Linked DNA regions of Homo sapiens. The protein of the gene in region 3 binds, or shares a complex with, the protein of the main gene of each other region. Each region holds a gene or a part of one and is shown on either strand. Other genes may lie near its edges.

Region 1 (7,684 bases), on a different chromosome or scaffold from region 3:
CGAGTAGCTGGGATTACAGATGCATGCCACCACATCTGGCTAATTTTTTGTATTTTTAGTAGAGACAGGTTTCACCATGTTGGCCAGGCTGGTCTCGAACTCCTGGCCTCATGTGATCCACCCACCTTGGCCTCCCAAAGTGCTGGGATTACAAGCGAGAACCACTGCGCCTGGCCTGGGAATTGAAGTTTCTTAGTGTTTGGAATAGTTTAAAACGTTTTTTATTTGGAAATTTCTGGGTTTTGAAATGTATATGGACTGGCTGGGCACCATGACTCATGCCTGTAATGCCAGCACTTTGGGAGGCCGAGGCGGGTGGATCACTTGAAGTCAGGAGTTTGAAACCAGCCTGGCCAACATGGTGAAACCCTGTCTCTACTAAAAAAACCAAACCAAAACAAAAAAAAATTAGCCAGGTGTGGTGGCGGGCGCGTCTGTAATCCCAGCTACTCAAGAGGCTGAGGCATGAGAATCACTTGAACCCGGGAGGCAGAGGTTGCAGTGAACTGAGATCGCGCCACTGCACTCCAGCCTGGACAACAGAGTGAGACTCTGTCTCAAAAAAAAAAAAAAAAGGTATATGGATTAAAACTAGAGGGACAAGGATGGTTGTTTAGAGGTGACATCTTGACCATGTAACCTAGTAGTTTTTTTAGTTCAATTAGTTGTGTAAATGGACATGTGTCATCACAGTTGGCACTAAAAACAGCAAGTGGGTTATTAGATATTCAATACTGGGTTAGTAAGTCAAGTCACAGTCAAAATCTGCTGCTTTGGAAAACAGGTTAGTTTACTGAAAGTGATGTATTAGAACACAGACTATAGTCATTTCTTTCACCTATCTAAATAGATAAAATCTTCCAGCCTCACACCTGTAATCCCAGCACTTTGGGAGGCCGAGGCAGCAGATCACCTGAGATCGAGAGTTCGCGACCAGCCTGACCAACATGGAGAAACCCCGTCTCTACTAAAAATACAAAATTAGCTGGGAGTGGTGGCTCATGCCTGTAATCCCAGCTATTTGGGAGGCTGAGGCAGGAGAATCGCTTGAACCTAGGAGGCAAGGTTGCAGTGAGTCGAGATCGCGCCATTGCACTCCAGCCTGGGCAACAAGAGTGAAACTCCGTCTCTAAAAAAAGAAAAAAAAAAGCCTTCCTCCAGGACAGACTTGATGTGAATTTACTATAAATATATTGTGGTGGAGTGGGGGTGGTGCACACCTGTAATCCCAGCACTTTGGGAGGCCAAGAGAGGCAGATCGCTTGAGACCAGGAGTCCAGGAGTTTGAGACCAGCTTGGGCAACATGGCGAAACCCTCTCTATGAAAAATACAAAAGTTAGCTGGTGGGGTGGTGTGTGCCTGTAGTCCCAGCTACTAGCTACTTGGGAAGTTGAGGCACAAGATTCGCTTGAACCTGGGAGGAGGCTGCAGTGAGCCGAGATCACAGTACTGCACTCCAGCCTGGGCAACAGAACCAGGCCCTGTCTCAAAAAAAAAAAAAAAAAAAAAAAAAATATATATATATATATATATATATATATATATAAAATATATATTCTATATATATTATATTAATGTAATATTAATTAGAATATATATTATATATATAAGAAATATTTAAGCCAGTTAGAATTGTCTTGTTAATGTGTTGTCTTAAAGGGGAGTTGGAAATAAAGTATCTTGAAGACAGCTCTGGCCTAAGTGTCAGATCTCTGGACTCTAGTTCCAGGTTAGATTCCAACAAGGTTAGTGATCTAGGATGAAATATGTTTCCTGAGTCTCAGTTTTGTTACTTAAAATCAAGAAGTTTGAGTTTGTGATTTTAAAAATCTATAACATTAATCCCATGATTCTTTTTATTATTATTTTTTGAGACAGAGTCTCGCTCTGTCGCACAGGCTGGAGTGCAGTGGCGCGATCTTGGCTCACTGCAACCTCTGTCTCCCGGTTTCAAGTGATTCTCATGCCTCAGCCTCCCGAGTAGCTGGGATTAGCACGCACCACCACACCCAGCTAATTTTTGTATCTTTAGTAGAGACATAATTTCACCATGTTGGCAAGGCTGGCCTTGAAGTCCTGCCCTCATGTGATCCACCCGCCTCAGCCTCCTAAAGTGCTGGGATGACAGTCATGAGCCACTGCATCTGGCCCTAATCCTGTGATTCTAAGCAATATTCAAATTGTGTTAATTTCAAAAATTAAGGACTTATTTCCATTCACTTCTGCATGGCCTCATCCAGTCCATGGCTTCAAATACTGTGTATTATACATTCTATAAAATGCTGAGGACCCATATCTCTCCCGCCTCTATTTGTAGCTGTTATTTCCTGGATGTCTAGTAGGCACCTCAAATATCACATGACTGAAACAAACTCAATGACTTTCTCTATTTCCTCCACTAAATCTGTTGCTTCCATGCTTTTCTCATCTCCACAAATTCACCACAGTCCACAATAGCTCTGTTGAAAACCTGGCAGTCATCTTTTATTCCTTCCTTTCCGTCATAGCTCACATCCAGTTTATCTATTGGCGCTTTGAGAGCTGCTTCCAGAATACACCCAGAATCTGATCACTTCTCAGTCTTCATTGTTTAAGCCACTGGTGGTTTTCTATGTCTTTTAGGTTGAAATCCACATTCCCTACCTGCAGCCCACATCCAAACAATTTACAGGGGGATTCCTAACCCTCCTTGGTGTCCATCCTGTCACTCATTAATTAGCTCAGGCCTTCTTACCCTTGGCATGGACTGCCAGAACCTCCAGTCTCTATCCCTCTTCAATGCTTCTCGCAGCTACCACAGGTGGGCAGCAAGCCACGGGGGGCGTGGGGAGCATAAACTCATCTTGGAGTGTCACTCGTTGGTTTGCTTTTTTTCTTTAATCAACTATGTTGAGGTAAAATTTACATACAATAAGTCATGTACAGTTAAAGGGTACAGTTCAGTGAATTTTGAAAAATGTGCAAATCTATTCAATGACCACTAAAATCAAGACACAGAACTTTTCCATCATCTTTAGGTGTAAGAAAGTAAAATAGTACAGAGGCAAGTAAAGTAAAAATATGAGCCTTTCTCCAACTCCATTATAGCTTTTTGCAAAAACAACTCAACATGGCCGGGCACGGTGGCTCATGCCTGTAATCCCAGCACTTTGGGAGGCCGAGGCGGGCAGGTCTCCTGAGGTCGAGAGTTCAAGACCAGCCTGACCAACATGGAGAAACCCCATCTCTACTAAAAATACAAAATAAGCTGGGGTGGTGGTGCATGCCTGTAATCCCAGCTACTTGGGAGGCTGAGGCAGGAGAATCGCTTGAACCCAGGAGGTGGAGGTTGTGGTGAGCTGAGCTCTCACCATTGCACTCCAGCCTGGGCAACAAAAGCGAAACTCCGTCTCAAAAAAAAAAAACAAAAAAAATTCAACATTTCTGTGTGTGTTGCATGAGACAATACATATACATTTTTTTGGTGCCCAAACTCTCGAATAATGTTCTCAATCTTGACTGTACTTCAGAATTACCTGGGAAGCTTAAAAATTCCCAGTGCACAAGAAGCACTCCAGGCCAATTAAATCAGAACATAGGGGTGGAACCCAGGCTTCTATTTTATTTACTAATATTTTAGAGATGAGATTTCTCTGTGCTACCCAGGCTGGAGTCATCATAGCTCACTGCAGCCTCAAACTCCTGGGCTCAAGTAATCTTCTTGCCTCAGCCTCCCTGGCTCAAATGATCCTCTCACCTCAGCCTCCCAAGTAGCTAGAACCACAGGCGTGCCAGCACACCTGGCTAATTATTTTGCTTATTTTTTGTAGAGGGTCTCGCTATGTTGCCCAGGTAGGTCTTGAATTCCTGGGCTCAAGCCATCCTCCTGCCTCGGCCTCCCAAAGTGCTGGGATTATAGGCATGAGCCACCATGGCTGGCCCTTTTTTTGTTTTTTTGTTTTATTTTTAAGCTTCCCAGTGCAAGCAATGTTGAGAACTAATCTTTTGCCAAAGTATTTTTAGCTCTTTGTTCTCTACTAGGTTAACACCTACCGGGTCTTCAAATCTCACCTCAGAGTTCACTTCCAAGGGAAACGTGTTTTCTGAATCCGTCTCCAATGGTGGACTCTCCTTGCTGTATTACTTCTGCTTGTGTTTTTAGTCAAGTCTATTATTATTACTATTTTCTTTGCAGAGACGAGGGCTACGTTGCCCAGGTCTTGAATTCCTGGGCTCAATAGATCCTCCCGCCTCAGCCTCCCAAAGTGCTGGGATTTCAGGCGTGAGCCACTGTGCTGGCTTTAGTCATCTGTTTCCCGGATAGACTGTGAGCTCCCCAGGATCTAGCACAAGCCTGGCATATGACAACATAAATAAATGAGTGAATGTATACATGAATAAAGAGCGTGTACGGAGAAAGTTGCCGCATTATTTAGCGCAAATTAAGGCAGACATCAGCCTGCCCAGGACGCCTCTTTGGCTCTGGCGCGAAACACCCTCACGGGCCGGCGAGGCTGACGCGCTGCGCTCCATCGCACTAATCAGCCGGGCGTGGTGCGGGCGCCGGGAAGACTGGGCGGGGCGAAGGCATCACCTTTCGATGGGGCCGGCGCTGTGCGTCCTCCAGTCGAGGTGGGGCGCTGTGGAAGAGCGGCAGCTTCCGGTCGGCTTTTCTCTTCCTTCGGCTGCCGGCGCCAGCACGTCCTGTTTTCGTTGGCCGCGCTGGGATGGCCGCCACAGCTGTAGGTGCTGCTAGTGTTTAGCGCTGGTCTTTGCCGGGCGTTGAGGGCAGCTCAGCCTCCTTGTTTGTCCGGTTCGCCTGTGCGTGGTACTCAAGGGCACCAGTATTCCCGCGGTCGGCAGCATGGGTCGGGAGTCACGGTGAGGCAGAGCGCCGAGCGGGCTAGCGGGCGAGCGGCTTCTTGGGGTCGTGAGAAGAGGCGGGAGTTGAGGTGGCCGCCGGGCCAGGCCTGGCGCGGCCCCACGTGCGGTCAGCGCTGCCCCGCGAGCATTGGAAGGGCTGGGGGACCTCGGCTGAGGGAATGGTTGTGTTTGGGCCAGCGACGGCTTCCCCTGCACTACCATCAGAGGGTTCGAGCCCCTGGAGCGGGAACAACCCTCCAGGACGTTAGTGATTGGGCACCACATCCCGCCACTTCAAGGGAGCCTGCCCTGATTACTTCAGTCAGAAGTGATCCCAGTTGGATTGCTTATTGCTTCGCGTTTCCAACATTTCCTCGACTCCTGTCATTCTGTATTTTAGTTCTTTGTGCGCGTATGATCTTTTCCCAAGTTACTTGAAAGGAGCGTGTGGGCAGACATTTTTACCGCATCGACAGCACTATACACGACTAGGCTTTTACTGGGCTACAATAAATACTTGTTGCGTGGGCATTTACTTCGCAAATAGATTTCGTATTTAAGCAGGTAACTTTGTTACCTGCTTTTCTGTCCTTTTGAAGTTGTGGACTATGAGCTCTTATTAGAACTCATTAGATCTCATCACAACTTTAGATTGTTGATAGATTGTTAGGAACCTTGAGATTTTTATGTTAAAAATGACTATTTGCTATGTATTTAGCAATGACTGAAAGATATTTTATGTCTAGGAACAATGAAGGCTTTTGTTGTTAGTGCTAACAGTTCTTTGTTGAGGTACAATTAACAATCAGGGAAATGGACAAAACGTAAGGGTAAAGCTTGATGAAATTTAGCAAATATATAAACCGTGTAATCATCACCTGGATGAAGATAAAAAATATTTCTTTAACTACAGAAAATTCCTGTGACGGTGTTTTAAATCTCCGGAAGGCTGTCCAGACCAGAAATCTGAAAGTGATATTTATTTGACTCATTCTTCTCTCTCACTACCCACAGCCTGTTAGATTCTACATCCTTTGCCCATTCTGGTTGTCCCTGACTTAATTGAGGCCCTAATTATTTATTGTCCAGACTACTACATCTGTTTTAAATTGATTCTCTGAATTGATTGTCTTCCTCTGTTGCTCTCCTAATTGTTAGATCCCTTACACTACAGCCAGAGTGACACTTCTGAAGTAGAGATAAGATGATGGCATGCCCCTGACTTAGTCTCCATTGGTTTCTACTGCTTCCAAGATGAAATTTAAACTCTATGACAGCCTTCAAGGCCCTTCACAAGAAGGTCCATTCTAGCCCGTCAGCCTTCTCCTTTACCTCTCTGGTGTGCATGGCCTGTGCTCTAGGTTTGTTCAGGGAATCATGAAAGGCTTAGAGGTGGGAAGGCGCAAGGTGTTAGAGAAATAGCTAAAAAGCCCAATTTTTCTGCATATGTAGGTTTCATGAAGGGATTTTATCTTTTTTGAGAAGTAGTAGGAGGTAGGTCCTGAATAGGACTTGGGCCCAGAAAGCGGGTGGATTGTAGATTTTGAAGATCAGAATTTGTTTGTGAACCTTTGAAGATTTTGAGTAAAAAGTGTGTAATAGAATCAGAATTCTCCTTAGCAGCAATGAGTAAGATTTAATGGAAAAGTAATAGAAACAGGAAGACTACAGTCTTTAAGAATCTCCTAGGTAGATATGTCTGATATAGAATAGTGACGGTTGGAACTCTGTGGAGGTGATATAATGTGAAGGGAATTACAGAGGTGAAATTGGTATTACTTGGTTGTTTTTTTGTTTTTGTTTTTGTTTTTGAGACAGAGTCTCGCTCTTTCGCCAGGCTGGAGTGCAGTGGTGGGATCTCGGCTCACTGCAAGCTCCGCCTCCAGGGTTCACGCCATTCTCCTGCCTCAGCCTCCCGAGTAGCTGGAACTACAGGCGCCTGCCACCGCGTCAGGCTAATTTTTGTATTTTTTAGTAGAGACGGGGTTTCACCGTGTTAGCCAGGGTGGTCTCGATCTCCTGACCTTGTGATCCACCCGCCTCGGCCTCCCAAAGTTCTGGGATTACAGGCGTGAGCCACCGCACCCGGCCTGTTTTTTTGTTTTTGAGACAGGGACTTGCTCTGTCTCCCAGGCTGGAGTGCATTGAAACAATCTTGGCTCACTGCAACCTATGCTTCCCAGGTTCAAGAGATCCTCCCACCTCAGCCTCCCGAATAGCTGGGACTGCAAGCGTGTGCCACCACGCTTTGCTAATTTTTGTATTTTTTGTAGAGACAGGGTTTCACCATGTTGCCCAGGCTGGTCTCAACTCCTGAGGTCAAGCTCTCTGCCCACCTTGGCCTGCCAAAATGCTGGGATTACAGGCATGAGCCGCTGTGCCCAGCCAATTGGTGTTTTATTTATTGTATCGAATGAGAGCAAGAGAAAAATATTGATGATGACTAATGTTTTGAGCCTAGTGACCGGAAGTTGGTACGATTAATCGTTTGGGGAGGGAAGGGTAACAAGTTTGGGTTTCTACAGATTGAACTTGAGGTGCTTGAGAGATAATCAGGTGCATTCATCTCCTAGTGATCTTATTTAGGTTTATAGCTTTAAATAGCCTTTGTACACTAATAGCTGTCCAGTTTATATTTCTAGAGAAACCTCTTCCTTGAACTACAGGCTAATATTTCAACTATATACTATATATCTCCACTTGGATACCTAATATTCTGATCCACCTTCTCCCTGGATTTCTCCCTCAGCCTTCCCATCTTGGTAAATGGCAACTGAGTGATTTCTCTCTTGCTGTCACACTTGACATTTAGTTCATCATTAAATCCCATCGGTGCTAGCT
Region 2 (7,021 bases), on a different chromosome or scaffold from region 3:
CAGGTGTTGAGACACCACATCTGGCTGAGATAAAATTATTTCTCTCTGGTCATTCTTAATATTCAGAGACATATCTGGAAACACATTCACCAAACAGTGAATTTGGCTATTTCTGAGTGGTAAAATTGTGACTTGCTTTCATCTTTGTACTTGTCAATTCTGACTGAATATTTTATGATGAGCATGTCAGTTTCTTTAAAAAACAAAAACCATTATTTGTTTTTCTACACATACACATGGTATATGACAAATATTATGTCAATAAAATATTTTTTAAGTAAATAAAGAGACACATGGTGGAGTTAGAGAAGGAAAACAAACAAATTACCTTCCAGTTCAAAAGCAGAAATGGCCAAGAATGAACGAAAGGACAATGCTCACCTCAGGGATGGGCGAGTTCAGCCCAGGGATTTTCAGGTTGGGATACGATGGGGGTGGTCCATATCGCTGCATGGCAATCAGCCATGGGGGAGGGACCTTGTGGGCATTCTGCAGGAAAAAGAGAACAGGATACCATCTGCCAAACCCTATCCCTGTCTCTGCCTTCCACTCCAATCCCCACCAGCCTCTTCGCTGCTTCCCCAGACAGCTAACTGACACTCACTGGTCCTACTGGCATCCCCAAGGAAATCCTTAGCTCATCAGACAGATCTCCTGGCTTCTTCTCCTTCAGTCGTGTCTCGAACTCCTTCCCCTGAGGGAAAAGCAGAGCATGCTACATTGTAGACCCAGACACTCAGTGGGAGCACAATCCTAACGCACATCAGATATAAAATCCCAGTGAGGGCTACCTGGCTCCCACTCTGATTCTCATCACTTCTTTCCCTGGCCAAAGTCGGGGAAGGAATAAAAACCAGGCCAGACTCACAGTGCTGTCAATAACCCACTATGAGAACACGGCCAACGTTAGGACCTGCCTCCTCATCTGTAAAATGAGGGCACTCGACAGGAAGATATGCAAAATTCTTCCACCTCATAAATTCCATGACATCATGGTGACTACGATTTCAAGGATCAGAAAAAACCAGCAATTTCTCTACCACTCCCAATATTAAAAGTTTCCTAAAAGCATCTGCCCCTTGGCCCCTCCATCCCTAAACCACCTACCACAAACTATTATCATTTCTAAGACAGGATACGAAGAGTCTATCAGGGAAAGAAGCCACCAGATCTGCATCTCTCCTCCAAATAGAGCCTCATTTTTAAATTCCATCTCATCCGAGGGTAGTCGATGGGCAATTCTAAGGCTGAGGAACTATCGTAGTTGCTTCAAAAGCCCTCCTTGGCCAGGTGCGGTGGTTCATGCCTATAAACCCAGCACTTTGGGAGGCTGAGGCGGGTGGATCACTTGAGCTCAGGAGTTCCACACTAGCCTGGGCAACATAGCGAAACCCTGTCTCTACCAAAGATACAAAAAATTAGCCAGGTGTGGTGTGCCTGTGGTCCCAGCTACTCAGGAGGCTGAGATGGGAGGACTGCTTGAGCCCCCAAGGCAGAGGTTACAGTGAGCCGAGATCCCACCACTGCACTCCAGCCTGGATAACAGGGTGAGACTCCATCTTTTTTAAACAAACAAACAAACAAAAAAAAGCCCTAGACAGTCTCAACCCCAAGGCCCAGCCTGACCTCTCCCAGCCCCCTCCCGAACCTCATAGTACAGGTCCCCATGGATGGTCAGCTTTGGCTTGGTCTGCCACTTGAAGAAGGCATCATGCAGTTTCTGGTAGTCGATGTCAATTTTGCCCATCTTAGGCCGAACTTTCTCTCGCATTTTTGACTTCATGGTCTTCTGTTCTTCCTGTGGAGAATGGCAGCAAACAAGCCTTAACAAGTACTCACCAAATTCATGTAGAGAATCCAGCTCCCAACTCCAAATGAGATCATGGGAAGCCTCAATTATCTCACCCTGAAAGTCATCAAAATCCTTCCTGCTAAAACCTTTCAAAATTACATAATCCATACTGAACAAAACAGACTATACAATATCAGCCTCAGCCGTGTATATCAATAACTAGTTTTTAAACCATCTCATCAAGAGATGAATCTCAACAGTTCTCTGGAAAGCAGAGACTTCCCCATGTTCTTTTCTACCTCCTGAATTCAAAGCATTTAACTAAAAGCTTTAAAATTAAGAAGTTACACAACCACCACGAATCTCTAGCCACAAAGTACATCTGAGAAAGGAGTCACCAGGTGAGCTGGCAAAGTGAAGGCAGAGGGGAGGAAGAGCAGAGGAGGAAAACAAAAGGATAATTAGACAAGTAACAAGTAGGTGGTAGGTGGGTTTCAAACCAGATTCCCATTTTGAAGCACACTGCTATGAAGGATGGGGACACCCGGGGGCAGGTCTGAGCCCTGCCAGGCCCTCACCTTCTCCTGCAGGGCCTCTCGCATCTCCTGGATGCCTGTGCGTTTGATGAAGTCTGGCAGCTCGAAGGGGGGCTTCTCAATGCCCCGTTTGCCCTGCAGGTATTTGCGCTTAAAACACCAGTGGCGTGGCACAGGCACAGAGTTCCGAGTGGCCTTGAGGTGAACCAAGAGCTTAGGGTCCTGCGCTGTCACATCGTGCATCTCCACGACATCGGGCCGAGCCACCAGCTGGAAAACACATAGTAATGCGTGTTCTCGAGAGCCCCGACTTCTCAGTTCTGAAGCTCTTCTTCCTCAAAGGACCCAAACCCAAATCACCCACACCTCCTTCAAAGAACTCCTTTTCACCTCCCTGGCTCCCCAGGTGGTCTCCCAGCTGGGCTCCAGGGCCTGCAGGATCCTCTCAGGTCTTACCTGCTTGAGTTCAGCCACAGTGAAGCGGTTCATTCGGCGCAACTTCTTCTTGGACAGCTTGGGGGCTTCTGGCTTCTTTTCCTAGAACAGAACAATCAGCCCTTTTAAGCAGGACTCAGATGTGAATGAAACTGCCCAACCCACCCCAACCTTAAGCCACCAAAGCTCTGTAAGAGTTCACCATGGTCCCTCTCTGGATGCATCTCAGCCACCTGTGCCCAGAGTCCCTGCTTCCCACCAGGAGGGCTGGGCCTGACCTGCTCGTCATCACTGCTGTCATCATCACTGTCCTTGTGCTCCTCTTCAAATCCCTTCTTCTTGGGGGCTGCAGAGTTCTCCAGTTTGTCAAGTTTCTCTGGCTCCTTCTCTTTCTCCTTCTTCACATCATCAGTGAGCTAAGGAGGCAGACAAGGTGAAACCCCTGCCCTCTGAGCCCCTTCCCAGTTCCTAAGGCCAGCACTAAAAGATGCCTGTTCACCGCTGCCTCTCACCCACCTCTGAGCCCCTTCCCTGTTTGGCACTGCCCCTTCCTAGTGTGCTCTCCTTGTACCTTAAAAGCCTCAAAGATCCTCTTAAAGAAGATAAAGTTGGGCTCGTAAATTTCAGGTTCTTCAGTCACATACTCAATCTCAACATCAGCTGCTGGGGAATCAGAGCCACGGGACCGGGTTGAGTCTTTCTCCCGGTCCCCAGAGCTCTCAGAGGACACCCCTCGCACCCGCTGGGGCTTTTTCTTCTTCTTTCGGTTCCTACGCTTCCGGTTTTTCTGTCAAGAGGAGGAAAACCAGCTGGGTCAGGGAATCCAAGCACTGTGCCAGCACCCCAACCCCTAAACTCCTCCCCCATTCTCCCCCACAGTTCAACAGTCAGGCTTTTCCCAAGGAGGCCATCTCATGAAGTAGCTGCGAAGGGGCCTTGGAGTCAGACTCCAAAGTTCTGCCACTCACAAGCTGTATGCCTTTGGGTAAATTACTGTGCGTCTCAGAACCTCTGCTTTTTCAGCTGTAAAATGTAGGCACGTATAGTACTTGGAACTCAAAGCAATTAAATGAAAAATATCTATAAGATGCTGAGGGCGGAAATTGGCACAAAATAGAAGCTATTACTTACTGAACACTTACAAATTGTGTTATTTCCGTACCCAAGTCCCATCTCCTGGCTTTCCTTCCACACTCAGCTCCAATCCCTACCTCCTTTTTAGATACGGACACTGTGTCCTCCTCAGTCTCTGACGCTGACTGGCCCAGGGACGAGCGAGCATCTGTTTCCATTTCCTCTTCCTCTGTAAGGAAGAAGGTGGTGATGAGTCTTCACGGTGCCACTGCCCTGCACTCGTTCACAGTAACCTGCCTTTACCAAGAGCCAGGGAAAGGGACAGAGGGATGAGGACTCAGCTCAGCCTCTCCAGGTTCTGTGGCTACAGCATCAGAACGCCTGGCACTCACCCTGCTGAGAATTCATCTCTTCCTGGCGGCTCTCCTTCAGCTGCAGGATCTTCTCCAAAGCCTGGGGGATCTTGGGGCCCACAGAGGGGTCATCCATCTGCCAGAGACACCCAGTCAGAGAAGGCAAATCACAGTGCCCTTTTTCTTTTTTTTTTCTTTCTTTCTTTTTTTTTTTTTTGAGACGGAGTTTTGCTCTTGTTGCCCAGGCTGGAGTGCAATGGCGCGATCTCGGCCCACCACAACCTCCGCCTCCCAGGTTCAAGCAATTCTCCTGCCTCAGCCTCCCGAGTAGCTGGGATTACAGGCATGCACCACCACACCTGGCCAATTTTGTATTTTTAGTAGAGATGGGGTTTCTCCATGTTGAGGCTGGTCTAGAACTCCTGACCTCAGGTGATCCGCCCGCCTCGGCCTCCCAAAGTGCTGGGATTACAGGTGTGAGCCACCGCACCCAGCCCACAGTGCCCTTTTTCCACCAACTTCCACCTCTTGGACTAGAAAGGCTGCTGCCCAGGTGATGTAAGCAGCAGAGAGTGGGCAACACCAACTGGGCTCAGTGGGGTTTAGTGTTCCTCAGAGGGACCCCAAGACTCTGCCTCAGTAATGTCTCCCCAGTCCCTCTGCCATACCCTTAGTTTAAATAAGAAGGGCTCCCCACTACCCCCAGGAATTTAAGTCCCCCCATCTTCTCACAGAACCTTTCTCTAAAAATCCAAAAATAGTCCCATCCTAAACTACCACTCTCTTATCCCTAGGAATAAATCATCAGTCTCACCTCTCTGTTCTCATCTCCAGGGGGCGGTGGGGGACCACGAGGCCGGGGAACAGGGGCTCCCATGGGCAAAACTGTAGGAGTGGGGCCCACTGGGCCCACTGGAGCAGCTACTAAGAGACGGGAAAAAGAAATCCAATGTCAGAAGAGGCAAAACACTCACGTAAAAAATTACCTCTCTTGCTGAAAGGGTGATGGTAAACCTGCAGGGGAGGAGGGCACGTGGCGTGGCTTTTGGAATGCTGGTAATGTTTTGGATCATGGTCCAGGTGCTGGTTGTACAGGTGTGTTCAGTGTGTAAAAAACCATTAAACTATATATTTACTATATATGCCCTTTTTAAATGTGATAGATACCTTAAAAGTCTTTTTAAAAATGTCTAAATCACCTTCCTTGCCCTTCCCCTCGGTTCCAGGGTCTCACCTCGAGGACCCAGAGGAGTGCGCACACCAATCTGGCCCATGTCTTGTGGGGGCCGAGGGACTGGGGTGCCCATCTTGGCAATCTCCTGCTGTCGTTCCTGCTCCAGTAACACAGCTGCCTACGGGAGGGAAGTGGGAGTAGATACTGCCTGAAAACGCATTTGGCAGGCAGCCCCTGGCAAATGCATTCTTTCAGCCGGGTAATGGGCCCAAGGAGAACAATCACGAACCACTTGGGTGCTGACATCCCCTCCACCCCCACACTTCCAGGCTACTAATCCAAACGGAGGAGCCCTCTCATCACAACGGAAAATCCCTAGAAATAACACCAAGGAAAACCCCAGGAAACTTCTGGTTCCTAGCAGAGAATTTCATATTGAGCCAAACAGTGCCTTCTACTTTTCAGAGAGTTTTCTTCCCCAAAAGATTAAATTATACAGAAGAAACTTTTGAGCTCTTTTCTTATATCCACCCCTCAAGATCCAGCACAATCTGGGCAAAGACAGTACTTTACCCACAGGTCCAGACTTGTGGCTTTTTTTTTTTTTTTTTTTTTTGAGACAGAGTCTGGCTCTGTTGCCTAGGCTGGAGTACAGTGGCATGATCTCAGCTCACTGCAACCTCGGCCTCCCCAGCTCAAGCCATCCTCCCACCTCAGCCTCCCAAGTAGCTGGGACTACAGGCATGCGCCGCCACACCTGGCTAATTTTTGTATTTCTGAGAGACAGGGTTTCATTATGTTGGCCAGGCTGGTCTCGAACTCCTGAGCTCAAGCGATCCACCCACCTCAGCCTCCCAAAGTGCTAGGATTACAGGTGTGAGCCACGGCACCCAGCTCATACTTGTTGCTTTTTAACACTTACTTTTTAATACTCCTGAGTAACCCACTGGGTAATGACTGATGCAATGCACCTCTGGGGCCAAACATCTTATATAACATTCCCAGACTTACAGTCCTATTCTGTCTAAATCCAATACAAATAACTCAATTACCCAGAGTCCTATCTAGAATGATGTCATGTAAGGCGAGCAGAGGTCAGCAGGCTCTTTTTATAATAGGTCAGAAGGTAAATATTTTAGGCTTTATGGGTTGCTGTACAGACTCTGGTACATATTTTTGGTTTGGGTTTTCTTATAACCCTTAAAAAATTTTAAAGTTATTTTTAGCTCATAGGCCATACACATGCAGGCCACAGGTCATAGTTTGTCAATTCCTGAACTTCAAGAAAAATTGAAAGCTTTGGAAGATACTAGAACTTAGTTGAGAACAAAGTAGCCTCCAGGGAAAACTTGAATGGTGCACTCTAAGCACTATAAATGACAGCCAACTGACTGGACCACGAGGTCAAAGGTTAGGGGGAGGGGTATTACCCGCTTCTGCTGCTCCAAGAGCTCATGTTCCTTCAGCGAATGATCTCCCTGCTTAAAAAAGAAAACAAGTTCATACCAGCACCAATACCCAACACGCCAATCTGCCACAACTCTTGCTTCTTGAGATCCTCTTCCAGTCAAGGGCCCATGTTCCAATCTTTAGTCCCGACCTTCCCAGAAGCCTTAGTTCTAGGACCCAGCTTTCTCTAAGGCTCCACTGCCCCTTC
Region 3 (7,281 bases):
TTCCATACCAGAGTTGGAAGCTGAGCCAAACAAATCTTTCATAAAGGAAAGTCAAAAGTTAAAAAAACAGGAGGAAAAGCAAGAACCTAGAGGACATTCCAGAGTGAGAACTGAAAAAACACCCAACAAAATAAAACAGGAAAAATATTATCACAGAAATAACATAAGAACATTAGCAAGAAAATTAAAAACAAAAACAAAACCCAGGACTAAAGGAACCAAACTGTCCAGATACCAAGCACCCACCAGGATCAGCAAATAAAAAGATCCCCGGTAAATGAGGAAATCAGGAAATTTTACGACACCAAGGAAGATGTTAAGCTTCTACTAGACAGAAAGACAACTGAGCAGAAAACATCAGAAACCAGCATAGGAACTGATCTTTTGAGAACAGCACTGAAAACAATGCTTTCACAGTTCTGAGCAAATACAGATTTTTTTCTCTCTCTTTTTTTTTTTTTTTTTTTGAGACGGATTCTCGCTCTGTCGCCCAGGCAGTAGCTCGATCTTGGCTCACTGCAACCTCCACCTCCCAGGTTCAAGCCATTCTCCTGCCTTAGCCTCCCGAGTAGCTGAGATTACAGGCACATGCCAAAACGCCTGGCAAATTTTTATATTTTTAGTGGAGATGGGATTTCGCCAGGTTGGCGAGGCTGGTCTCAAACTCCCAAACTCAGGTCATCCGCCCGCCTCAGCCTCCCAAAGTGCTGGGATTACAGGCGTGAGCCACCACGCCCGGCCTACAAATACAGATTTTCAATCTAGATTTTTATACCCCACCAAACTTCTAACTATGAGGGTAAATAAACTCGTTTTCAGACAATCAAGGACTTCCCCCACCCCCCGAAAAAAATCATCTGTTTCTTCAAAAGCTCCCAGAAGTTTTGCTCGGACAGCATGAAGGGAAAGAGATGACCACACTGGAAACAGAGGTCAGCACAGGGGAGCAAGGACAGGAAGGTTTGGGACAACAGCTCCACTTCCAGGTCAGAGCACAACCAGTCCCATTTGGAGGAGGAGGATAAGGGGGTCTTGGAGGGAAGTGGTGAGGGGAGATCAATTTATTTAAACCTATGCAAAATACAACTGATAGGTGTGTGAGAGGTGGGAGCTTTGTGGGGAAAAAACAAACAGCAGGTAAAAGAAAATCAGGCTCATGGTAAAAACAAAGTTAATTAGCTTTAAGGGAAGATAGAATGGTACAAGAAAAGCCTAGCTGAACATATTACTTGTTTTAGCAGCCAACAATATTTTGCATCTTATTTAGAAAACACAACCAATGACCAACTATGCTCATGACATAAACTCATTCAGGATATGGAAGGTGAAGGTGCAGTGGGTGGATGGGAGGGAGAAGATCTCAACAGCCGTGACAAGAAATCAGCAGATGATGTCTACAAATTGATAAATCCATGAAGAAATCTGTTACTTACTAAGGTAAAGATCAGGGGACAGCCTGGCCAACCTGGTAAAACCCCATCTCTACAAAAAATACAAAAATTAGCCGGGTGCAGTGGCTCATGCCTGTAATCCTACCACTTTGGGAGGCCGTGGCAGGTGGATCACCTGGTCAGGAGTTCGAGACCAGCCTGGGCAACATGGCGAAACCTCGTCTCTACAAAAAATACAAAAATTCGCCGGACATGGTGGTGAGCACCTGTGATCCCAGCTACTCGAGAGGTTGAGGCAGGAGGATGGCTTGAGCATGGGAGTTTGAGGCTGGAGTAAGCTGTGATTGCACCACTGCACTCACTCCAGCCTGGGTGACAGAGCAAGACCCTGTCTCAAAACAAACAAAAAACCGATGACGACCAGGGGAAATGAGCTTAAGAATTGAGGAAAAGTGGCCTCTGGGACCTGGGACTAGACCATTGAGAAGGAATTAGTTTTTCGTGGCAACACCGTTCTCTCCTTAACCTAGCCAACAACCTATTTTCCAGAGCTCCGCCTGGCTGTTTGGTGTCGTCCAAGGATACACAAGAACAACGGTCACAGCGGGGTGCACCTGCAAAATGGGGCCAGCTAACGTGTTCTGGTCGCCTTTGGCATGATGTTGAAGCCGTCACTCCCATTTTAAGGGAACTGAGGCTCACAGGAATTACATCACAGAGCCCCAGTCAACTAACAGGTATAGATGAGCATACAGAAGCGTTCTCGGCTACAAGGAAGGCGGCCGAAACCATTTCAGCCGCGATCCCGATTCGACCCCAACGAATCTTGGTTGTTTCTTTTTTATTTTGTCAAACAGGGTCTTGCTCTGTTGTCCAGGCTGGAGTGCAACGGCACAATCACAACTCACTGCAGCCTCGACCTCCTGGACTCAAGCGATCTTCCCGCTTCAGCCTCCAGAGTAGCTGGGACTACAGGCGCGCGTCACCAACCACGCCCGGCTAATTTTTTTTTTTTTTTTTTTTGCAGTGATGGGGTCTCGCTATGTTGCCCAGGCTGGAGTGCAGTGGTGGGATCATGGCTCACTGCAGCCTCGACATTCCGAGCTCAAGCGATCCTCTCGAGTAGCTGGGCCTACAGGTACAACCACCACTCCTGGCTAATTTTTTAAAATTTTTTGTAGAGATGGGGGTCTCGGTGTGTTGTCCAGGCTGGTCTCGAACTCCTGGCCTCAAGCGATCCTCCCGCCAAGGCCTCCCTGAGCAGTGAGATTACAGGCGTGAGGCCCCGCGCGCGGCCTCCCAACAGGAGTTTGGAAATAGAGTTCCTGGCGGGCCCGACCCTCCAGGCCCGCCCAGCGCGGGGCCTCAGGATGCACAAGGCCGGACGCTCACGGGAGGAGGGAGGGGAGCGACGCCGCCGCCCCACCCTCGGCCCGCGGCCTGTCGCAAGCGCCTCTCTCCTACGTCCGCTGTCCCCCAGGGAACCCCCGGTCCGCGTCGGCCGCCGCCCTCAACCGCCTCTACTCCTCACCAGAGCCCAAGGCCGCGTTATCTCCTCCTCGTTTCGCCACCTCCACGACTTCGTTTGGCGAACGGCGGGCAAAGAAAGCACTTCCGGGGCAAATGAGACGGGCCCTCTGGTGTGCGCATGCCTGGCCCGCCCAGCGGCGTGAGTCAGAGGGTCCCGAGGCGCGAAGGAAAAGGCTGGAGGGGGAGAGGCTGAAAGCGCGGCCTGGAAGGCAAACTGCGCGTGCGCACAACGCTCTCAACGAACCCTCGGTCCGCTGCGGCCGCACGGGGCCAACTTTCGCGAGGGAGCGGCTGACACTCTCCGGGCGACGTTATCGCTCCCTCCGCCTGCGCCTGGCCGCTCTAGAAAGGGGTGCCAGCCATCGCTGGGGTGCCTTGATTCTGTTCCACCTTGGTCCGGTTTATTTCAGTTTAATGGTTATGTAACAACGGTCCGTCTCTCCTACCAACCGGTACCCCGCCCACGCCAGCAGCCACGGGTCGCCAGCGCCACGCAGCGGAGGCGGGCGGCATGGCTGGCCCAAGGTGCGCAGGCGCACTAGCCCTGGGGGTGCTTCCGTGTCTGCGCCCTGAGACATTTTTGGCGCCGGCCCCAGCCTGAGCGGGGACGGCGGCCGGGAGGGCGCGGCCCGGGTTCCCGTTCCCCGCGGAGCCATGCGGTACAACGAGAAGGAGCTGCAGGCTCTGTCCCGGCAGCCGGCCGAGATGGCGGCCGAGCTGGGCATGAGGGGCCCCAAGAAGGGCAGCGGTGAGCGGGACCCGGGAGACCGAGACAGTGCCAGGGGCGGGAGGCCGGGGCCGGGGTCTGGGCGGGGGTGCCGGAGGCCGGAGTCCGGGTCGGGGCGCCGGGGACGGGAGGCCGGGGTCCGGGCGGGGGCTGCCTGCGCCCCTGAGTGCGCGCTGTGCCCGCAGTGCTGAAGCGGCGGCTGGTGAAGCTGGTGGTGAATTTCCTCTTCTACTTTCGGACAGACGAGGCCGAGGTAGGGGCGTCCCGGGCGCGCGGGCGGGTCCCAGGCTGGGCCCCTCGGAGGCCGGGTGCTCACTGCCCCGTCCCGGCGCCCGTGTCTCCTCCAGCCCGTCGGAGCCCTGCTGCTGGAGCGCTGCAGAGTCGTCCGGGAAGAGCCCGGCACCTTCTCCATCAGTGAGTGGGGCTAGGGAAGCCAGCGGCGCTTCCCGCAGCCCGGGGCACCCGCAGCGCCGCACTTTCCCCTCCCCGGGCGCCCAAGGTCTCCTCTGTGTCCCCAGCCTGGCGCCACCCTCCTCAAACACAAGAGTGCATTGTCCACGGGCAGCTCAAGGTCAAGTTCTCCTGGCGGGCACCACCCTTCCCACCTGCCGAGTCCACTTAAGCTTGGGTCCCTCCCAGACTCTGCTCTTTGTTCCCTGTGGGCCCAGGCTGTACTTACAGGGCAGGTGGGCCAGCCCCACCCAAAGCGTTTCCCCAGCTGCCAAGAGTAGCATGGGTCTAGCATTGTTATATGGCCCCGGGCTGGAAATCCCAGGTGGGGGTAGGAGGAGTGAGAGGGGGGTGTTCTCCTGGGTCTTAAGAGATTCCCTTCTGCGGGGAAAGATGGAGTCCCTGCTAGTTTGCCCAGAGTGGCTGTCAAAATTCCACAGGCCAGGTGGCTTAAATATCAGAAACATTCTCTACAGTTCTGGAGGCCAGAAATCCTAGATGAAGGTGTGGGTGGGGCCGAATCCTTCTGAGGCCGAGGGGAATCTCCCAGTTCCTAGTGGTGGCCAGTATCCTCCAGGTTCCTTGGCTTGTGGAAGCGTCACCTTGTCCTCCTTGCATCACGTCTGTGCCCACATTTCCCCTTCTACACAGACGCCAAGCAGAATTTAGGGCCCACCCTGACAACCCCTTTTTACTTCACTTTATTATTTTATTTGCTTATTTTTTGAGACAGGGTCTTGGTATGTCGCCCAGGCTGGAGTGCAGTGGTGCAATCTCGGCTCCCTGTAACTTCCCCCTCTCGGGTTCAAGTGATTCTCCTGCCTCAGCCTCCCGAGTAGCTGGTACTACAGGCACGCGCCACCATGCCCAGCTAATTTTTGTATTTTTAGTAGAGACGGGGTTTCGCCATATTGGCCAGGCTGCTCTCGAACTCCTGACCTCAGGTGATCCTCCCACCTCGGCCTCCCAAAGTGCTGGGATTACGGTCTTGAGCCACCGTACCCGGCCCTCTTTATTTTTGAGACAGGATCTTTTGTTTCCGAGGCTGGAGTGCAGTGGCGTGATCACAGCTCACTGCAGCCTCAACCCCCTTGGCTCAAGCAGTCCTCCCACTTCTGACTCCGGAGTGGCTGGGCCTACAAGGCCCCACCACCACACCTGGCTAATTTTTGTTTTTGTAGAGATGGGGATTTTGCCATGTCACCCAGGCTGGTCTCGAACTCCTGAGCTCAAGCAATCCTCCCACCTTGGCCTCTCAAAGCGCTGGGATTATAGGCATGAGCCACCGCACCTGGCGACAACCTCATTTTGACTAGTTTATATGCAAAGACCCTGTTTATATACAGGGCCATACTCATGGGTTCTGGGGGGTCAGGACATGAACACATCTTTGTGGGGGCCAGAGAAGGGACAGTTTATGGGCAATGGCAAGAGGAAGCTGCTTGTGGCTGTGGGTAGGACCGACCACAGGTGTTCCATCCCCAGGCTTCATTGAGGACCCTGAGAGGAAGTATCACTTTGAGTGCAGCAGCGAGGAGCAGTGTCAGGAGTGGATGGAGGCTCTGCGTCGGGCCAGGTGGGGCCAGGCGGTGGTGGGCACTGCTGGGGTGGGCACAGCAGCCATGCAGAGCGGGCATTTGACCCCGTGCCACCCTTTTCCCCAGCTACGAGTTCATGCGGAGAAGCCTCATCTTCTACAGGAACGAAATCCGGAAGGTGACGGGCAAGGTGTGTGCAGGGCTGCAGAGGGCCGGGGTGGGGCTGCAGGTGGCAGAGGCAGTCCTCCAGCCCTGGCTCATGGCCACCCGTCCTCCCCACAGGACCCCCTGGAACAGTTCGGCATATCCGAGGAGGCCAGGTTCCAGCTGAGTGGCTTGCAGGCGTGAGCGCAGGGCACGGTGGTCAGCGTGCAGCGGGACGGGACTGGCCCTGCCCAGCCATGAATCGCTTGGCCATGCCTGGATCTGTTTTGTTTTGGTTTTTGGTTTTTGGGTCAGGGTTTCACTGTGTTGCCCAGGCTAGAGTGCAGTGGTGCCACAGCTCACTGTGACCTTGACCTTCTGGACTCAAGTGATCCTCCTGCCTCAGCTTCCCAAGTAGCGGGGATCACAGGCATGAGCCGCCACACCCGGCCATCACACCTGGATTTTCAGTGGGAGGTTTTTGGTTTGGAGACATCCAAAGCCTGAAGCCAGGTGGGTGTGGGCAGGGGCTGCATTTTATGAAACTGCCCAGCAAGCTGCGCTCCCTGGGGCCCCAGGATCCACCTAACTGGCCTGGCACCTGGTGCCACGTGCTGCTGCCGCCAGGATATGCGCCTTCCCACAGGTGCCCTGCCTGAGTTGTGTGCATCCAGGGGCCTGGTGAGCCCCCAGGCTGGTGGCATGGCCCCCCTGCCCCGTGCTGAATGAATGTACAGAGCCAGACAAAGCTGTGAATGGCCTAGGGGCTGAGTCCCACACCAGCTGTGAATTCTCCTGCAGACAGGAGGGCCCTGGCTGTGCACCTGGGGAAGTGGTTGCCCTGGGGCCAGGGTGCTTGTTCTGTTCAAATAAAGGTACCTCTTTTCCACACTGGATGGCGGTGAAGTGAAGGAGAGGGGAGGGGCAGCCAGGGAGCCCCCACCCAAGGGAAGTAAGGCTCAGGGTCCTGAGAGGCAGTGGCTGGGCCTCCTGCACTGAGGGGAGAGCTAGAACCCCCAGCCAGGACAGGTGGAGGCTGGGACCCAGGCCTGGGGAGAACAGAGCTGCTGTGTGGTATCAGGAATCCTGTGGTGACCTGGGGTCCTGCCTCTGGCATTCACGGGCCCTCCCGGAGTGTGGCTGGGGCCTGGGCGGGCTTTGGTCCATCTGATGTGAAAAGGACTTTGCCGATGTCATTGGGGTCGCAGATCTGGTTTTCCGTTCATCAAAAGGCACTTTGCCTGTGGCCTGGTGCCCTCATAAGCCTCCCCTTGCCTGTGGCCTGGTGCCCTCATAAGCCTCCCCAAGGCCAGGGTGTCCTGGTGTCAGCCCCCGGAGCTTCTGCTAGGAGCACCCCTAGGCCCTCCACTCCCCGTTTCGGCGATGACACACTAGCCGGGGCCTCTCACTGGCCGCCAGGAGACGCCTCATGCCACCTGGAAGAAAGGCTGCCATTCACACCAGGTCCGAGTGAAAACAGTCTGTTTATTACAGCGTCTAG
Region 4 (7,021 bases), on a different chromosome or scaffold from region 3:
AAAAATCAGTATGCCTTTACCAACAAAAGGTAGTCAAAAGTGAACATAATGAAAACAAAGTAATACTGTCAAAGTTTAGCTGGAAGTTTGCTGAGACTAATTCTCTTAGTTCAAAGGGGTAGCAAGTGCTGGAGAGGTGTAAAAGGTACATGAGCACCAAACCTAGACTTTGTCCTCTGAGTAACAAGAAAGACTGAAAGACATGAAAATTTAGTTGATTTGAGCCTGGGCAACAAGAAAAGACCCTAACTCTACAAAAAAATATAAAAATAAATTAACTGGGCATGGTGGTGTGTGCCTCTAGTCCCAGCTACTCAGGAGGCTGAGGTGGGAGGATCACTTGTGCCCAGGAGTCTGAGGCTGCAGTGGGCTAGAATCGTGTCACCGTATTCCAGCCTGGAAAACAGAGCAAGACCCTGTCTTTAAGAAACAAACAAACAAACAAAAAACAAATAGTTGGTTTAACGCCTTGTCCAAGTACTCCCTAAAACCACCCCCATTATACTGGTGAGGCCCACACAGGAAACATCCTCAGCAAAAACCCAGACTCGTACAGCTGTATAAGGCACCTTCAGATGACAGGGGTGTGGTAAGATCAGCAGGGAGGTCTCCAACCACTGTCTGTACCTGGGATGGTTCCCCAGATATGCCCCATGTCCCCAGCAAGCCTTCAAAACCTCAGGATAATGAAAAAATGTCCCTATAATGATGTTTAGGGAACCCTGATTTTTAAAATGTCCCAACAGTAATATTCAAAGTGCCACACTTATATACAACACCTGTGTCAGTCAGAAAGTACACGGACCTTAAAGACACAAGATATGAACACGTTCAAGTCTCAGGTTCACTGCTGACTCACTCTGACCCACAGCAAGTTACCAAACTACTCTTTGCTTCCATTTCCCCATGTGTAAAATGCAGCTAACACCAGTTTCCCTTTCTACCTTGAAACATTATTGAGGAGATGCCAAAGTGTTTTTGTTTTATAGACAGGGTCTCACTCTGTCACCCAGGCTGGAGTGCAGTGGTACAATCTCAGCTCACTGCAACCTCCACCTCCTGGGCTCAAGGGATCCTCCCACCTCAGCCTCCTGAGTAGCTGGGACTACAGGCATATACCACCATGCTCGGCTAATTTTTTTTTTACATTTTGTAGAGACGGGGTTTCACCATGTTGCTCAGGCTGGTCTCAAACTCCTGCGCTTAAGCGCCTTGGCCTCCCAAAGTGATAGGATTATAGGCGTGAGCCACTGAACCCAGCCCTCAAAGTCTTTTCAAATCGTACAGTGGCCTGCAAATGCAAGGGGCTAGGAGGGGTTGTTCCATAAACATTGTCTGTGGGGCCTTCCATTGCTCCTCTGGCGAGAACCTTGTACTTAGAACTGCCCCAAACACACCAAGGCATGGCCCCGGCATCTGGTGCCAGCTAGCCAGCTCCACTCTTCAGACTTTCATATCCCTGGCCTGTGAGTTTAAGAGGGGGTGGGAGCCCGGCACAGTGGCGCACACTTGTAGTCCCAGCTACTCAGGAGGCTGAGGCGAGAGGATCACTTGAGCCCAGAAGATCATACCCAAGCCTGGGCAACAAAATGAAATTTCACCTCTGAAAACAAAAATTTTTTAAATTTTTTTTAAGACAGATGGCAGGAGACAGGGTACAGGCAGTGCTGTGCCCCAGATCAACCACCACAGCAATTATGTGCCACACTAGTGATCGACACCCAGGCTGGCTCCTCAGCAAGTCGTGGTCATACCCTGCCGTGTAACTAACACCATGAGGTCTCAATTTGACAGTATATTAGTCTAACTGGAACCTCATGCTTTGGAAAAAAAATTCTCCCTACTCCTTAAATAATGCAAACCACACATAAGAATGAAGGTGAATGCACACTTAAATCCTGCTAAACTAGGCCACTATACCCAGCAAATGCCTCGGGCAGACAAAGGGCTCCTGGAAAAAGGGGCCCTGGTTGTCTCCTGTACCACTGCCTAAGCCATAACTTTACCCCATCTGGGAACAATCTGAAAAATAAAACAATGAGAAGGCTTGGCATGTTCATTCCAAGCTATTCAGTTGCTTTAAATTAGCTTAACGTTAATTTTAGAATCATACTCTCCACCAGAAGGAATAGATTTCAACAGAAAAAGACATGATTCTGACTCAACCCAGCTGGTGGGACTTTTTAAGGGTAATTTCCACTTCAGTTTCTTGACAGGAACATGCAGGAAATGAAAAGGCCTAACCTAGCGAAAAAACTTTTGGAAAACCGCTCAGTTGTGCATTTCTACTGCATGCTCCATAAATATACGTGAACCCAGGAGAAGTGAAGCACAGAGTTCTGCATGCCTGCTTTAACTCGGATATTGGTCTCTTTGTTGCAATGTAAACGATAAGTTCACAGATTTTATTTATTTATTTACTTTTGAGGCGGAGTCTCGCTCCGTCACCCAGGTGGGAGTGCAGTGGCACAATCTTGGCTCACTGCAACCTCTGCCTCCCGGGTTCAAACGATTCTTCTGCCTCAGCCTCCCAAGTAGCTGGGACTACAGGCGCCCGCCACCACACCTGGCTAATTTTTTGTATTTTTAGTAGAGACGAGGTTTCACTATGCTGGCCAGGCTGGTCTTGAACTCCTGACCTCAGGTGATCTGCCCACCTCAGTTTCCCAAAGTGCTGGGATTACAGGTGTAAGCCACCACACTGGCTCACAGATTTTAGAAATGCCTACAAAAGCAATCACCATAGCTAAAAATCAATCTAGGGATGTGCATGGTTTTGGATTTTTTTCTTTCTTTTTTTTTTTTTTTTTGAGATAGGGTCTTGCTCTATCGCCCCAGGCTGGAGTACGCTGGCATGATCATACCCTTGACCTCTCAGGCTCAAGTGATCCTCCCAAGTGGCTAGAAATACAGATATGCGCCACCATGCCCAGCTAATTTTTTTATTTTTTGTAGAGACAGGGGTCTCACTATATTGCCTACACTGGTGTCCAAGTCCTGGGTTCAAGCGATCCTCCCACCCTGGCCTCCCAAAGTGCTGGGATTACAGGCGTGAGCCACCTAACCTGGTCATATATATTTAAAGGGACCTTGGATATCCTCTTATTTCTTTAGCAGCAGAGGATGGCACAAAATTATTGGAAAGCTACTTGGCAAAATGTTTAAGAAATCTTTTAAGGATGCTCTTTTAGCCAATAATGAGCCACACAGAATTTTCTTCTAAGGAAACGATCTAAAAGGGAAAGAAAATGCTCAGAGATTTCCCCACAGCTTAATTTGCCAAAATGAAATGTTGGGAACAGGCCAGGTGCGGTGGTCACTGCCTGTAATCCCAGCCACCTTGTGGTGGCTGAGACATGAGGATCACTTGAGGCCAGGAGTTCAAGACCAACCTGAGCAACACAGAAAGACCCCATCTATACAAAAAAACTAAAAAAAATAAAAAAAATAAAAAAAAAATTAGCTGGGTGTGGTGGCAGGCACCTGTAGTCCTAGCTACTCAGGAAGCTGAGGTGGGAGGATAACTTGAGCCCAGGAGTTCAAGGCTGCAGTGAGCTGTTATCATGCCACTGCACTCCTGCCTGCGTGTCAGAACGAGACTCTGTCTCTAAAAAAGAAATGTTGGAAACCTCCTCCTCTAAGGAAAATACAGAAATGGTGGCCAAGTCAAGGAAAGCCTTTCACCTCTACATGGTGCATCCCCTTAATAAAGGACCACAGGGCATTATGAAGACCATGGAGCAAAATGGAAAAATGCTTACAACACAGAGTGGAATATCTTTACTAGTATTACAAGGATCTAAAAAAAGGATTCCAAGGACAGAAGGAAACAGAAAAATGTGAAAACAGCTGGTAGACACTACTCTGGTAATGAGAATATGGTGATTCTTCACCCAACTCCCCTTTTCTGTATATTCTGTTTTTAAAGTATCAGGGGAAAAGGGGAGGCATGAACACTGCTAAGAGCCATTAAACATTTATCTTAAACACAACACTGTCTAAATCTGACATGACCCAATCAACATCATCACAATGTTCAATCAAGCACAGAGAAGCTTTCAACCTAATACTCAAAGGTAATCAAAGCCCTTGAAATGTAATGAGATGAATCTGCAGAGCTGACATAGTGAAAGTCTAACCAAAGTAGGCTGGTGCCGTGGCTCACGCCTGTAATCCCAGCACTTTGGGAGGCCCAGGTCGGGGGATCATTAAGTCAAGAGACTGAGACCAGCCTGGCCAACACGGTGAAACCACGTCTCTACTAAAAATACAAAAATTACCTGGGCGTGGTGGCGCACGCCTGTTGTCCCAGCTACTCGGGAGGCTGAGGCAGGAGAATCACTTGAACCCAGGAGGCAGAGGTTGCAGTGAGTTGAGACTGCACCACTGCACTCCAGCCTGGCAACAGAGTGAGACTCCATGTCATTTAAAAAAAAAAAAAAGAAAGTCTAACCAAAGTAATCTTTATGTCTAATTTTATTAGGTTGGGAAAGGAAGGACCATCCGTTAAATGATGCATACTGACTGAGACACTGCCTCAGGGGGGTGACGTGGTCCCTGGAGAACACATGCTGATTGGGCCTGCTTCCACACATGAAGGAACTGTCCAGAAATCCAGACTGATTGTGAAATCTCATTTTTACTTGTTTTGTTTTTTTTGAGACAGGGTCTCACTGTCACCCAGGCTAGAGTCCATGGCTCACTATAGCTTCAACCTTCTGGGCCCAACCGATCCTCTTGCCTCAGCCTCCTAAGTAGCTGGGATCACAGGCCCATGCCACCACAGCCAGATAACTTTTTATTTTTTGTAGACAGGGTCTCACTATGTTGCCCAGGCTAGTCTCAAATTCCTGAGTTCAAGTGATCTTCCCACCTTGGGCTCCCAAAGTGCTAGGATTACAAGCAAGAGCCACAGCACCTGACCTCCTCATTTTTAAATAGTAGCAACAAATTTGAGTTTCGAAAAAATTACTGTGAGGACAAACAAAACATCTGTAGGCTGGACATGGACTGAGGGCTGCCAAAGGAATACCTTAAATACCCTAGAGAATGTACTGACCTTTGGAGTCAAGGGGCCAGTAAAAAAATTCCATCTAAGGATGTGAGGGTAAGTACAGTGGGGAGAGACAGGGGGAACTCGGAGCAATTCCCATTCCATCTGAGGTGGCGGCTAGCACCTGCGTGGAACTGTGGGGAGAGACAGGAGGAACCCGGAGCAATTCCCATTCCATCTGAGGTGGCGGCTAGCACCTGCATGGAACTGTAGGAAGAGAGAGGATCTCTGACCAATGCCCATTCCATCTGAGAAGCCAGCTAGCACCTGCACAGGACTGTGGGGAGAGACAGGAGGAACTCAGAGCAATACCCATTCCATCTGAGGAGACGGCTAGCACCTGCATGGAACTGTGGGGAGAGAGAGGATCTCTGACCAATGCCCATTCCATCTGAGAAGCCAGCTAGCACCTGCACAGAACTGTGGGGAGAGACAGGAGGAACTCGGAACAATGCCCATTCTATCTGAGGTGGCGGCTAGCACCTGCATGGAACTGTGAGGAGAGACAGGAGGAACTCGGAGCAATGCCCATGCCATCTGAGGAGGTGACTAGCACCCGCGTGGAACTGAACTGCATGCAGCCCCATGACCTCACTCCCGCCTCACAACAACTCTGAGATGGCATTTTTTCCATTTTGCAGATGGGTCATTTGAGGCTCTTGGAATGTGGTCTTTGTACAATGAGAATAATAAACTCCCCTTTTTATCTTCCTCAGGCCAGCAGCTCAGGCACAGACACACACCATCTGTGATGAAGCAGCTTTCCAGGCATTTCCTCAGGCCAGTTTTAGAAGCAGAGGCTCCTGGTGACTGTGGGGCTAAGTGTGATTCTCACTTTGGCCACTGCTATGCTGTGTCAGGGACACCAGTCCTACCTATTGCCTACCCCAGTGCCATGTTGTGGTTTTTTATGAACTAAAAGGCCCAAGCCAACAACGTCTCTTTAAAAACCCTTGTGCTGATTCAGTGCTGAAGTCTCTTCATGCTGAAACCCACCTCTGACCCACCCAAGTAGCTCTGTTACCTGGCCACAAAGCTGGCAGTCTTGTCAACAATATTTCTGACCTCTGGAGGAGGGTAAATAATCCCCACAACTGGCTTAGAAGGTGCAGAATCCTCCTTTGAAGATGCTTCTTCTTCTGTGGGCTGTGCAAACAGGAAAAGAAATAAGGTTTTAAAGTCCCTGGTTCAGAGCAGGTTCTCCACTGTAAAACTCCTCTAGGATATCATTCAGAGTAGACTTTCATTCACAGACTTCCCTCAGGTTAGAACCCTCTACTTCAGAAAAGCAGTTCTCTTAAGTTCACTGCACCTGCAGGGGCTGCTCCTGGGGACCCAGGGAGAAGAGCAGCTTCCCTGGCTCCTCTCTCACTGGACTATCTCAGTGAGACCAGGAATCTGCATTTTTACTATGGTATGAGACCAGCACTTCTCCTGTTGTCCTTCCCAGTTTCTCCCCAACCTCCCCTTTTCCCTAGTTTATAAGACAGGAGAAAAGGGAGAAAGCAAAAAGTTGGAAAGAAACAGAAGTAAGATAAATAGCTAGACGACCTTGGTGCCACCACCTGGCCCTGGTGGTTAAAATAATAATAATATTAACCCCTGACCAAAACTACTGGTGTTATCTGTAAATTCCAGACATTGTATGAGAAAGCACTGTAAAACTTTTTGTTCTGTTAGCTGATGTATGTAGCCCCCAGTCACGTTCCTCACGCTTACTTGATCTATTATGACTCTTTCACATAGACCTTTAGAGTTGTAAGCCCTTTAAAGGGCTAGGAATTTCTTTTTCGGGGAGCTCGGCTCTTAAGACACGAGTCTGCCGACGCTCCCGGATGAATAAAAAACCTCTTCCTTCTTTAATCCGGTGTCTGAGGAGTTTTGTCTGCGACTCGTCCTGCTACATTACCAAATGCCCAGGTGATTCAGATGCAGGGACTCCGACTACATTCTGAGAAACCATGTTCC

Evidence for each region.
Region 1: SF3A2 (region 3) and DDX46 share a complex: the UniProt entries of both Homo sapiens proteins name them as parts of the 17S U2 SnRNP complex.
Region 2: SF3A2 (region 3) and SF3B2 share a complex: the UniProt entries of both Homo sapiens proteins name them as parts of the 17S U2 SnRNP complex.
Region 4: SF3A2 (region 3) and SF3A1 share a complex: the UniProt entries of both Homo sapiens proteins name them as parts of the SF3A subcomplex of the 17S U2 SnRNP complex.

The regions. Positions count from the first base shown.
Region 1 is NC_000005.10:134,754,095-134,761,778, forward strand, and holds the start of DDX46 (probable ATP-dependent RNA helicase DDX46), read left to right. Parts: upstream 1-4,684; 5' UTR 4,685-4,844; coding exon 4,845-4,861; intron 4,862-7,684. UniProt on the Homo sapiens protein: Component of the 17S U2 SnRNP complex of the spliceosome, a large ribonucleoprotein complex that removes introns from transcribed pre-mRNAs.
Region 2 is NC_000011.10:66,055,359-66,062,379, reverse strand, and holds part of SF3B2 (splicing factor 3B subunit 2), read right to left. Parts: intron 6,846-7,021; coding exon 6,795-6,845; intron 5,543-6,794; coding exon 5,425-5,542; intron 5,115-5,424; coding exon 5,005-5,114; intron 4,327-5,004; coding exon 4,230-4,326; intron 4,067-4,229; coding exon 3,975-4,066; intron 3,551-3,974; coding exon 3,335-3,550; intron 3,180-3,334; coding exon 3,042-3,179; intron 2,866-3,041; coding exon 2,785-2,865; intron 2,599-2,784; coding exon 2,371-2,598; intron 1,799-2,370; coding exon 1,649-1,798; intron 695-1,648; coding exon 605-694; intron 490-604; coding exon 382-489; intron 1-381. UniProt on the Homo sapiens protein: Component of the 17S U2 SnRNP complex of the spliceosome, a large ribonucleoprotein complex that removes introns from transcribed pre-mRNAs.
Region 3 is NC_000019.10:2,232,543-2,239,823, reverse strand, and holds the start of SF3A2 (splicing factor 3A subunit 2), read right to left. Parts: upstream 3,001-7,281; 5' UTR 2,923-3,000; intron 1-2,922. Other genes in the region: PLEKHJ1 (pleckstrin homology domain-containing family J member 1), read left to right, coding at 3,576-3,669, 3,834-3,901, 3,996-4,062, 5,584-5,674, 5,763-5,826. UniProt on the Homo sapiens protein: Component of the 17S U2 SnRNP complex of the spliceosome, a large ribonucleoprotein complex that removes introns from transcribed pre-mRNAs.
Region 4 is NC_000022.11:30,346,874-30,353,894, forward strand, and holds part of SF3A1 (splicing factor 3A subunit 1), read right to left. Parts: intron 6,200-7,021; coding exon 6,078-6,199; intron 1-6,077. UniProt on the Homo sapiens protein: Component of the 17S U2 SnRNP complex of the spliceosome, a large ribonucleoprotein complex that removes introns from transcribed pre-mRNAs.